Homo sapiens: one gene and its partners. The protein of the gene in region 2 purifies or fractionates together with the protein of the main gene of each other region. This does not show direct contact. Each region holds a gene or a part of one and is shown on either strand. Other genes may lie near its edges. The genes, in order: SEMA7A, CLEC4A and PCDHB13.

Region 1 (3,650 bases), on a different chromosome or scaffold from region 2:
AGTTTTGGTATTTTCATACAGATGCAGTCGGAAGTAGCTATACATGAAATAAGCCTAACATAAAAATAGAGCTTTTTCCGTCCTTCCGTCCGGAAAGCAAACATCCTTCAATAAACATGCAAGGCGGCTGTCCTGTGGGACCCAGGACCAGAGAGGGAGCTGCAGAGGACAGGGCTGGACAGAGGGTAGCCCTGGGTCTTCAGGAACACCAGCCACCCAGCCATGAGAGAGGGAGGGGAAGGAGGCAATGTGGGTACCAAGAGTCCAGAAGGACTCAGGCCTCAGCCCCAGGGTCGAGATGGAGTCCCAGCTCTCCTATCCAAACCCACTCCCCGACCCATGGGCTCTTGGGCTGGGAGCATCGCTGCATTTAGTCAAGTTTGAGGAGTCTGAAAAATATTTTCCAGAAGATAAAGTCTTGGGTCATCGATGCCCCAGCTTCACAGTCGGTGCCCTCATTCTCAGCCCCTCACCATCCGTGCGCCACCTGGGGCCCAGCAGCCGCCTGCGGCTGGACGTCTCCAGGCCTGGCATCCTCCACTGGGTTATTCTGTCCCCTGGAAGAAGTGGCAGGCAAGGAGCTCCCGGGCCAGCCGGCTCTGAGTGTGAGACGTTCTAGTGCCCTGGGCTGCAGAAGCCTGAGGCATGCCCAGCCTCGGGAGGCCCTAGTGGACCAGCAAGCCAAGAGTGAGTGTGGGCAGCACCCCCAGCCAGAGGGAGGCGGCCAGGGCACAGGCATGACCCAGCAGGTGCTCGGCCATGATGCCGTCCTCGGGCAGCAGCTGCCAGTGCTGAGCCTCGCGGAAGTAGGAGCCCTCCTGGGCCTCGCAGAAGTAGTGGCCGTACTGCTGCGCCGTGAGGTTCTCGATGAACAGGATGCAGTTGGGGCTCTGGTGACCAGGTTCGCAGCTCTGCTCCACGTTCTCCTTGTGGCGCCATGAGTAGGTGGCGTGGCGGGATTCCATGGGGCAGCTCAGGTAGTAGCGAGAGTTTGGGGCCAGGGAAACCTTCTGCAGTGGGGCCTTGTCTGGGGAGGCAGTGGGGAAGCAGCCGTGAGGAGGGACAAAGAGCTCCCAGGGGAGGATGTGTCCTCCCCACGGACTGGGATCCCAGGACAAGGCTTCTGAATGAACGTGGGGAACCCAGCCCTCAGCGTCCTCCTTTTTTCTCCCGTCTCGCTCATCCCACCAAGAGGGCTCCCTCTGCAGGACTGTATCCTGCCCCATGTACCTGGGGCCCACAGGACAAGGCCATGTCTCCCTCAGACCAGGACAATCAGGGCAGGGCAGTACCCCACTCATTGGGCCACAGCCGCCAGCAGGGCCAGATCAGGTACCTGGTTTGGGGTTGGGACACTCCTTGTGTGGCTCGGCTGGATTAATGGATTGCAGCACTGACCTGGAGTGGGAAGGACGAAAGAGGATCAGCAGATACAAGGCTGCAGACCTGACCCTCCTATCCTTACCCCAGTGCAGTTCCAGCAGAGAGGAGGGTCCCACAAGAAAGGCCCAGTACCGCCACCTCCTCCAGCCCGACAACACCTCCCCCTCTCCCATGCCCACCTTCTCCCAGGGACGAGGGATCCCGGCCAACGTACCGTTCGGAGCTGTAGATGGAGATGCAGCGGCCTTGGTCCCAGCCGCAGTAGGGGTCTCGGGACATGAGGCAACCGTGGCAGCCCCCGCCATAGACCTCACACAGGTCCAGGGGCACCTGGCTCACCTCCCACTGGGAGCTCACATACAGCTTCCTCTGGAAGGACAGCAGGATTGGGTCAGGCCCGGGCCCCACCCCACACTCAGTCCTAAATGTCCAGGCCCTAAGGCCTAGAAGCTCTTAAAAGAACACACAAATCACATGCAAAGGAGCCCTGTCCTCAGCTGCAGTCACTGCATAGCCCATGGGACGCAGTGGGGGAAGGCTCACCCGCTCAGCATCCAGCGACATGGTCTGGATGGCAGCCGCGCGGCGGAAGGGCTGGATCTCCATGATGTTGAAGGCGAAGCTGTGCTCCTGCTCCCCCGGTTCCACCACCTTGTGGATAGTGCCCCTGTCTGTGTATGGTGGACAGAGGGTCAGTGGGCGGGAGTCCCACTGAGGGGCCAGGCAGCTTTCCTCTAGGCCGGGGAGGGGTGGGAAGTCACAACTCAGGCAAGGGTCACAGGACTGGTGTGGGCAGGGCGAGGAGAGCGTGACTGGGGAAGAATGTGGGAGCCTAAGGGCAGCCTGGAACCTTCCAAGGCTGATCCAGAGAGGCCATCCCAGGAGGCCCAGGGGTCCCTGGATACGGCCTCCAACATTCCCAAGGCTGCACGGGAAGAACAGAAGCAGGAGCCCCACACCAGCAAGGTCAGTGCGGCTGCTGTCCATGCATCACCTCGTTTAACCCTCCACAGCCCTGCGAGGTGGCTGTCATCTTCCCCACTCCACAGATAAGGAAATCAGGCTCAGAAAGGCTAAGCCACTTGCTCAAGGTCACACAGCTGGTGAGCAGCAGAGACCGAGTTGGAACCCAAATCTGTCAGAGCCCAACCACTCAGCTGCTTCTACAACTCCCCTGCCTCCTGGACTCTTAGGGAATATATTTACTTTAAATACATTTTTTTTTTATTTTGGAGTAATTTTAGATTCCCAGAAAAGTTGCAAAGATAGTACAGAGAGCTCCAATCTACCCTTCTCCAGTTCCCCCTAATGTTACCATCTTACATAACCACGGTATATTTGTCACAACTAGGCAACTGACATTGGTGCATTACTATTAACAAAACTACAGACTTTATTTGGATTTCACTAGTTTTTCCACAAATGTCCTTCTTCTGTTCTAGGATCCAATTCAGGACTCCACGTTGCATTTGATCTTAGGGGATATCTTAATTTTATAAAATCTTAGATCTAAAAAGGATCTTGGATTCTAAATCAAGAGTTCCCAAGGTCTTATAACCGAGCTGCCTGCCTCCTAGACCAATGCTCTCTCCGTTCACAATTAGGGACCAATGGGCACCCTGACCCCTGGTCCTCCCAATCCTACCTCACCTGCTCTCCCAGTTTCTAGAATAGCCTACCTCCCTCTCTCCCTCCCTCCCAATTTCCCAGGGCATCACCTGCCCCAAAAAAGCAGTCAGATGATTGCCTGCCTAGGATGTTTCCTCTACACATCCGTGATCCTCATCTGTGGACTCTGAGATGTGGCCAGATGCTCCTTGGGCCTGATAAGGCCCCACCCCAGCCACTGCCTTCACAGACATACTGCCCTATACCTCCTTCCAAACCAGCCCCAGTAACAGCATACCCTTGGCAAAATTCTCAGGAAAAGAGCCAATACTTCTCCCAGTTGTGAGAGCCTCCCATTCTCTGCAGAGGACTTAGAAAGCTCTATTTTTCAGTCTAGCCCAAATACGAATGATGCAGGCTCCAAAATGGTGCCTCCTCCACTGCCCTTAGAACGAAGACACCTTCTCTAATCACTCAAGTGTGCTCACCTCCCAAGTCTGCAGGAAGGGAATCCATGGCCCAAGTCCAGCCTTCCTTGTCCTAGCTCCTGCTCCCAGTTCCGCACTGTGTGACCTCTCCTCTTCTGCTCCCCAGTGCCCTGCCATCCCTGGCTGACCACAACAGCTGTGCCAGCCACTACTGGAGCCAAGCAAGGATGG
Region 2 (3,750 bases):
ATTTCTGGATAAGCTCATTTTCAAAAGTCAGTTTTTAAAGGATACCCTCTGTTCATGGACAGCAGATATTGCTTATTGGTTCAGTTGGCATACTTACTGACAAAAGCAATAAAGAATGAGATTGCCAATAGCAGGAAAAATATCAACAGTGAGGCACAAAGCAGCTTGGGGAATCCGGTATTACTTTTGTGAGGGGCAGTCCTCTCCTTGGAAGCTGAAGAAGAAGCCAAATTAGTTTTATCAGTAATAAGTTTGGTCTTTACTTCCTCTTCTTCCTCCTCCTCTTTCTCTCTCTTTTCTTGGATGACACACAGTTACTAACGGTATGACATTTGAAATCACATGAGAATAGGAATAGAAAGGATATAATAATATTCACTGTAGAAACTTTAAAAAATACATAAAAGTACGAATTCCTACAATTGAGGATAACTGTTATGCCATATAACTTATAATATACCATAATATTTTGGTATATATCTTTCTAGCAATTTTTTGAATGTATATATACACATATGCAAATTTTCCCACGATTGACATACCATAAATACTGATTTCTGACCTATTATTTTCCTTTACACTATATCATGAACATTTTTCATACCATTATATTTTCTTCTTTAACACTCCTTATTATGGTTGCATAGTATTTCATCATATATTTAAATAATGGTTTCCAACTTTAAATAATGCTATAGCAAATAAATCTTTATAATCATTCCTCATCACATGTTTAGAATAAAGTCAGTCTTTTTAGTTACCATCTCATGGTTAGGAATCACTTTCTTCGAGTTATGATATTTTGTCAAATGATGGGGGAAAAAAATTCAGTATTATATAATATGATTACATTTTTAGTAAAATACATATGCACATTATATGTATTTGTATGTGGAAGGATATTCACTAAATTGCAAATTATGATTTTCTCTAGATGATAAGAGTAATTATAATTCAAATATCTGTGTACCTCTGGTTAATTTTTTCTACAATGAACATTAATACTTGTGTAATAAAGAAATTATATAAAGTTTTTAAGGAGAAAAAATTTCCCTAAGTGCTCTCCACACCTTCACAGAGGTATTTTAGAAAGCGTAACTATAGTCCTGACCCCTTCCCCCATAGTTTCTTGTACTCTATATACATTCTTTTCTCTCTTTTGCTCTATACTTGAGATATCACACATGACACCCAAATCACCTTGCATCTACTCCCAAACGTAACAGAGTCTGTCTCAGAGATGCAACACGCAATAGGTTCTCTGATTTCAGAAAAAGTTTCCTGGAGATTTAAGAGACTTTCTTTGTAGACTTTCTAGTCTTTCATTTGCAAAGGCCTTTTGTTACATTTCCATCCATTACCAACAAATATACCCTCACCACTGTCCACCCAAACTCTTTCCCTCTAACTGATCAAAAAACAAATCTCACAAATTCATCAGGACCCCCTGCATCTGGATTGATGGTTTCAGAAGCTGTACTCAATCTCTTAACCCCAGCCCCACTCAGCCTCAGAAAACACAGGGGCATCAGAGCACTCGCCTTAGCTCAGAACTGGAGTGGATTTCTCTCACCTCTGTTTCAGTAAGCAGAGTGGAGGCTGAAGAGAGTGGCACAAAATCTTTTCTTCTCCACAATACAAATGTACACCCCGTAATGCGTATCTGCAGGCCACTCAATCTTCTGGGACTCTTGTGTTTCCCAGACATACTCAATCAGACAACCAGCAACTGAAAACACCTATGCCTTATTCATAAACCCTCTCCTCATCCTTCACCTCGTCATTCACTCTGACCCCTAGAAAATGATCTTTACCTGCAGAAGAGGCTGTGTTGATGCCTGAGGACTTGAATTCATTTTTGAACCTCACTTCAGCATAAGTGATTTCCGAAGTCATAATGGGAAGAGAGCTTCTGCTTTCTTCAGAAAATCTGTTTCAGATCTTTCTTAAAACATCTTATAAACAGGAACCAAACATGGTGGTAAATTACCTCCTTCCTTTCACTCAACTAGTGGAGAGCAGAGGCACCAGATAGGCACATATCCTCAAGAGGGGTCTCATGAGAACTAAGAACCACAATAAAAACTAAAAACCGCAGTTCACAGAAGCCCTTTCCTCAGGACCAGTATAGTGAGAATCACAGCCTTGAAACAAATGCAAGCAAATGCAATAAAAGTGGGAACTCAAAGGGTTGCGGAAAGAGGAAGAAAAATAAAAGAAGAACCAAGCACTTAGAGTCTTTCTGGAGAACTGCGTTTTTCACCAGTAAAAAATACAATTTCTGTGCTTCCACACACAAATGTAATTACTTTTGACCAAACATCCTGAACATAGACTTATGTTGCATTCATCTCATCAATTTTGACTGATCAGGCAACTTGTTAGTACCACATTCTAAGAGTATCATTGACACAAAACTCACATATCAGCCTCCCCACCTTCACGAATTAGTTTCCTGTAGCATGGTGGGGATGGCAAAGTTTAAACCCCATGTCTTCTGAAGCTGTTCCTCCATGCTCTCTGTGTTTCCTTGTTGGTAACTAACTCTATCAAAAGTCTGCATTCATCTTGCTAGAATCTCCAGAAAGCAGCTCCCTTTACTGGATGTTGGAGGAGAGGGAAGGCCAGCCTTTATTCCATGCTTCCCTAACCTTTTAATCGCCACATCACCTCCAATATATATGACTATTTTTTAACAGTTAGGAGAATTATATAGAATCACAGTATAGAAGGGGATAAACTTAAACAAAGTACTAAATATGACTTTTTCCAAAGGCCTAGAAGAAAACACTCCAAATATTAAATCCTTCATGTGGAATCTCTCCATAGACATGCTCCCAGCTCACACCTGGATTCTCTGCCCTCAACTCTCCGCAAATGATCCTCCTTTTAATCTCCCCCAGCTGATTCCTTCTCCTGCATAACACACATGCATACATGCATGCACACACACACAAACACACACGTCTATATTTCTATATTATTTCTATATCTAAATATATTGAACACCATGAGTTCACACTAATTCCTCTAATTCCAATCTAACACCACAAGTTTCATTCTAGTTTTCTCCCTTCCCACATTCCTAACTCCTTTCTGTGACACTAAGAAACCTGCTTTCATTGTCTTTCACTTATTCCTTATTTGATCAATCTCCTGGATGTCGTCAATCTCCCACCTGCTAAGATGTCCCTCTCTTCCTAGTTGGGCTCTGACTCCCCAGTCCAAGCCACCATCCCCTGCGCGGATGCCCTCCCTCCTCACTCTGAGAGTGCCGGCAAAGGGCCAGCCCACTCCCCACCCCCATGAACATCCCCCAACAAACATCCCCCTCACCCTGCCAAGGCTCTGACTCCCTGTGCTAGGCCATTCCTCTGCAGGAAAGCCCTCCTCACTCTGCTTGCACTCTGATTCCTGATGCTGGTCCCCTAGTCACCACTTAGACCCCCTTAGGTTCTAATGCTCCACACAAGGTCACCCTATGGGTGGAAGCCCTCCTCACCCTGGAGGGGTCTGATTTCCTCACCGGGCTATCCTACCACATGGACCACCTCCTTATCCTGCTAAGTTTCTGAAACCCACACCAAGTCCTCCCTCTGCATAGAAGCTTTCTTCATCCTGCTTGGGCTCTGACACTCCATGCAGGTCCTCCATCCCCCAGCAATAATGTCCATCTTACCCTACTTAGGATCTGAGTTCCCTCACTGGGCTACCCCACCACATGGACACCCTCCTTATCATGCTTGGTCT
Region 3 (3,750 bases), on a different chromosome or scaffold from region 2:
CCACCAGCCTGTGCTTGGCCGCGTCGCGCTCGCTCAGCAGCCTGGCGGTGCGCACCTCGCCATTGTGCGCCCACACGCCGAACAGACCGAGCTCCGTGGCCTTGAGCAGCTGGTACGACAGCCAGGCGTTCTGGCCCGAGTCGCCGTCCACCGCCACCACCTTGGTCACCAGGTAGCCCGGCTCGGCCGCCCGGGGCACCAGCTCGGTGCAGGGCGCGGAGCCGTTCTGCAGCGGGTACAGCACGAAGGGCGAGTTGTCGTTGGCGTCCAGCACCACCACGCGCACCAGCGCCTCGCTGCTCAGCGCCGGGGAGCCGTGGTCTGAAGCGCCCACGCGGAACTGGAACCCCTGCAGGGCCTCGTAGTCCAGAGACCTGAGGGCGAACAGGTGGCCGTTGTCCGCGTTGATGGAGACCAGGGATGTGAGGGGCAGGTGCGGGTCCTGGGGCGGCAGCAGCGAGTAGGTGACCTGGGCGTTGGTGCCTGAGTCTCTGTCTGTAGCGCTGACGCTGCGGATGTGCAGGGCGGGGCTGTTGTTCTCGCGGACGAACAGGGTGTAGGAGGTTTGGGTGAAGGCGGGAGCGTTGTCATTGACATCGGCGATCAGCACGGTCATATTGAGCTGTGTTATCAGCATAGGGGTCCCCAAGTCAGTGACAGTGATAGTGATGTTGTATTCCGCTCTGCTTTCTCTGTCTAGTGGTCTCTCCGTTAGTAGGGTGTAAAAGTTTTCCGCGGATTTCAGGAGGAAGGGTAGATCCTCCTGAATGGAGCAACTAATTTTCCCATTTTCTCCTGAATCAAGATCTGAAACACTGAAAAGTGCAACCACAGTTTCAGGCGCGTTCTCAGGTATTGGGCTGGTAAATGCAGACATGGTAACTTCTGGGGCATGGTCGTTCACATCTATCACTTGAATCAGAACGGTGCATTTTCCAGAAAAGGTTCCAGCATCTCTTGCCTCAATATTGACTTCATAGGACTGAAGTTTTTCGAAATCGAGTTGTTTTTTTAGTTCAATTTCTCCTGTCAAGGGATTGATCTTAAAGGTTTTGCCAATCTCTTCTGAAGCTTGGAAAAGTGAATAGGAAATCTCTCCGTTGACTCCTGTGTCTACATCCGTGGCAGAGACCTTCACAACCAGGAAGCCTACCGGACTGTCCTCAGAGATCTGCACTCTATAGAAAGGCTGCTCAAATTCAGGGGCATTATCGTTGACATCCAGGACTTCGATGTAGACCTGAGCAGTGCCAGATCTGGGCGGAGAGCCACCATCCAGTGCTGTGAGTGTTAACCTGAGCTCAGCTTCTTCCTCTCGGTCCAGCGCTTTGTCCAGCACCAGCTCTGGGTATTTCCTGCCATCACTGCGTTTGCGGGTGAGGACCCGAAAATAGGAGTTGGGGCTGATTATATAGTTCTCAATATTGTTTTGGCCTACATCTAAGTCTTCGGCATTCTTCAGAGGAAACGTAGTCCCAGGAGGACTGCTCTCTGATACTTTCACCAACATTTGTTTGTCCAGAAATACTGGAGAGTGGTCGTTTATGTCTATTACTTGCAGCTCAGCTTGAAAAAACTCGAAGGGACTCTCTAGCAACACTTGGAAACGTAGCACACAGGGCTCTGTGTGACCGCACAGATCCTCACGGTCCAATTTCTCATTTAGCAACAAATCCGCGGTCTCCTGATTGAGCTGCAAATGTAGTTTGTTCCCTCTGGAAACAACCCTAACCCCCCGCCTGGAGAATTCCCTCTGCTCCAGACCCAGGTCCTTTGCTAAATTGGTGACAAAGGAGCTGCCCTCAGTTTCCTCCACCACAGAATAGCTTCTAGGTTCCGCCGCGCCCGCCAGAGATAAGCCCAAAAGGAGAAAGGAAAAAAGGACTTGCCTTTGTCTGCAAATGAGCTTCCCGCTGGCCTCCATTGTTCTTGCTGGATTCAGCTTCCTGGGAGGACGGTTCTGTGGGACTGTAAAGTCCCCAGTATCTGAGGCTGTGGTTATTCTACAGATACCTCAGAAATATGCCAGTGAGTAGTCCTCTCCAGAGGACCCAGCCGTCCTCCCTTTGGCATCCAAGCTCCCCGTGGACTTCCAGGTTCTGCTGCTTTTTGCCGGTTAATGGAGCTGCAGCTGCGGTTCTGGTTTGTGCCTTCTTATCCTGCAGCGCCACCACGCGTCCTCACAGGATCTTACATTTTGTGGAATGATAATGGATGTAATATTCCCAACTCTGCCTGTATGCACCCCGAGACTATGTAAGGTTACAACACCACCGTTAATATCGCCGGACTTTAGTGAGCAGACAACTGCCCAAAGGAGAAATCACATTAGTCTTTCAACAATGATAACTGAGTTTTGGGCAGAAAGGAAATATTTAGGTAATAGTCTAGCTTGGCAAAAAGAATTTCAAATATAATTGTAGTTATCATGGACAACATTTAGATCTTTATAGTTTTATTTCCATGAACCATAGGAATAATTAGTAGCTGTGAACCTCGAACAAATTATTTAATCTCTCTGCTTTAGTTTGCTCCTCTGTAAAGTGAGGATAAGAACAGTACCTACCACATAGGGCTGTTGTGAATTCCCCACCTTAAACATGAGGAATCTAATGCAAATAGATATTAACCTTAAAAATAAGGTATATACCAAGTATAAAGCAATTTGATGCCATCAAGTAACTGAGTCTTGATGGCATAAATCCATCATAAGTCTAGCATAAATCCATTACTATAACTAGATAAACACCTCGAAATTCAAATGGTAGAAGAATACAGGAGCATGACTATCTCAGGTAGAGAGGTTATGTCCAATAATGAAAGGAAATGAACAAGGAAAGGCTGGAGAGTTTGTCTAAATAGAGACAATATCTGTAACAGCAGTGGTGATTTTGTTTCTGGGAAGGATGTCCTTTTTTATTACCTCCACTTCTAACAGCATCAATTAAAAGACATTATTTTGAAATTTTTCAAATCTCATAAAAGAGAGGAGTATAATGATCCTCCAAGGACTCAGTACTAGCTTCAACTATTATCAATGTTTTGCCATAATTCTTGACTCTATCCCTTCAACATTTTCACATCCCAGACAAACTGAATTTTCTCCCACAAATACGTCATTATACATTTCTTTAAAAGCATCATGACTTTAAATGACTCTAAAAATATGCTTAAGTACAATGCCATTATCATACCTAAAAATCAAGTTAACATTATTTAATACCCATCTATATTCAAATTCTTCCAAGTTTTTCAAAGTCATTGCTGTTGTTTCAATCAAGATCCAAAAAAGATCCACACATTGTATTTGAGTGGTAGACCTCTTAAGATTTTTCCTTGTGTAAACTTCACTCCTCTTATTTTTTGAGCCATTTATTTGTCAGAGAAATTGGATAATTTTACCCTGAGACCATGAAAGCAATTTTAGATTTTACTACTGTGAGTTTTTGTCCTTAGATTCTATCCCACCAGTGATATGCAGTAATACTAGCTTTATTAGAGTTACTGGCACTAGTTTATAATATATTTAGAACACAACTATGCAAAAATTACCTATTTTAAATATAAGAATCGGTTATATATTTTTAACAAACAATGCTTCTCCTTAACTCCCCAAAATTTCTAAAAATTTAATGATCATCTATATTTCTCTTTGATATTACACATTTAAATCTATTCTTTTTCTTAAATTTTCCTGATTCAGCAGTGCAGTATAGGTAAGAAAAACTGCTAAAAACAAACTCTCAAATC

What was found.
Region 1: the proteins of CLEC4A (region 2) and SEMA7A purify together in Homo sapiens (co-immunoprecipitation; 2 studies listed by BioGRID and IntAct, with this or other methods). This does not show direct contact.
Region 3: the proteins of CLEC4A (region 2) and PCDHB13 purify together in Homo sapiens (co-immunoprecipitation; 2 studies listed by BioGRID and IntAct, with this or other methods). This does not show direct contact.

What each region holds. Positions count from the first base shown.
Region 1 is NC_000015.10:74,409,959-74,413,608, forward strand, and holds part of SEMA7A (semaphorin-7A isoform 1 preproprotein), read right to left. Parts: intron 2,055-3,650; coding exon 1,927-2,054; intron 1,753-1,926; coding exon 1,598-1,752; intron 1,475-1,597; exon of another isoform or gene 1,399-1,474; coding exon 1,337-1,398; intron 1,028-1,336; coding exon 666-1,027; 3' UTR 1-665. UniProt on the Homo sapiens protein: Plays an important role in integrin-mediated signaling and functions both in regulating cell migration and immune responses.
Region 2 is NC_000012.12:8,122,025-8,125,774, reverse strand, and holds the start of CLEC4A (C-type lectin domain family 4 member A), read right to left. Parts: upstream 2,159-3,750; 5' UTR 1,897-2,158; coding exon 1,815-1,896; intron 215-1,814; coding exon 98-214; intron 1-97. UniProt on the Homo sapiens protein: C-type lectin receptor that binds carbohydrates mannose and fucose but also weakly interacts with N-acetylglucosamine (GlcNAc) in a Ca(2+)-dependent manner. Involved in regulating immune reactivity.
Region 3 is NC_000005.10:141,212,298-141,216,047, reverse strand, and holds the start of PCDHB13 (protocadherin beta-13 precursor), read right to left. Parts: upstream 2,130-3,750; 5' UTR 1,925-2,129; coding exon 1-1,924. UniProt on the Homo sapiens protein: Potential calcium-dependent cell-adhesion protein. May be involved in the establishment and maintenance of specific neuronal connections in the brain.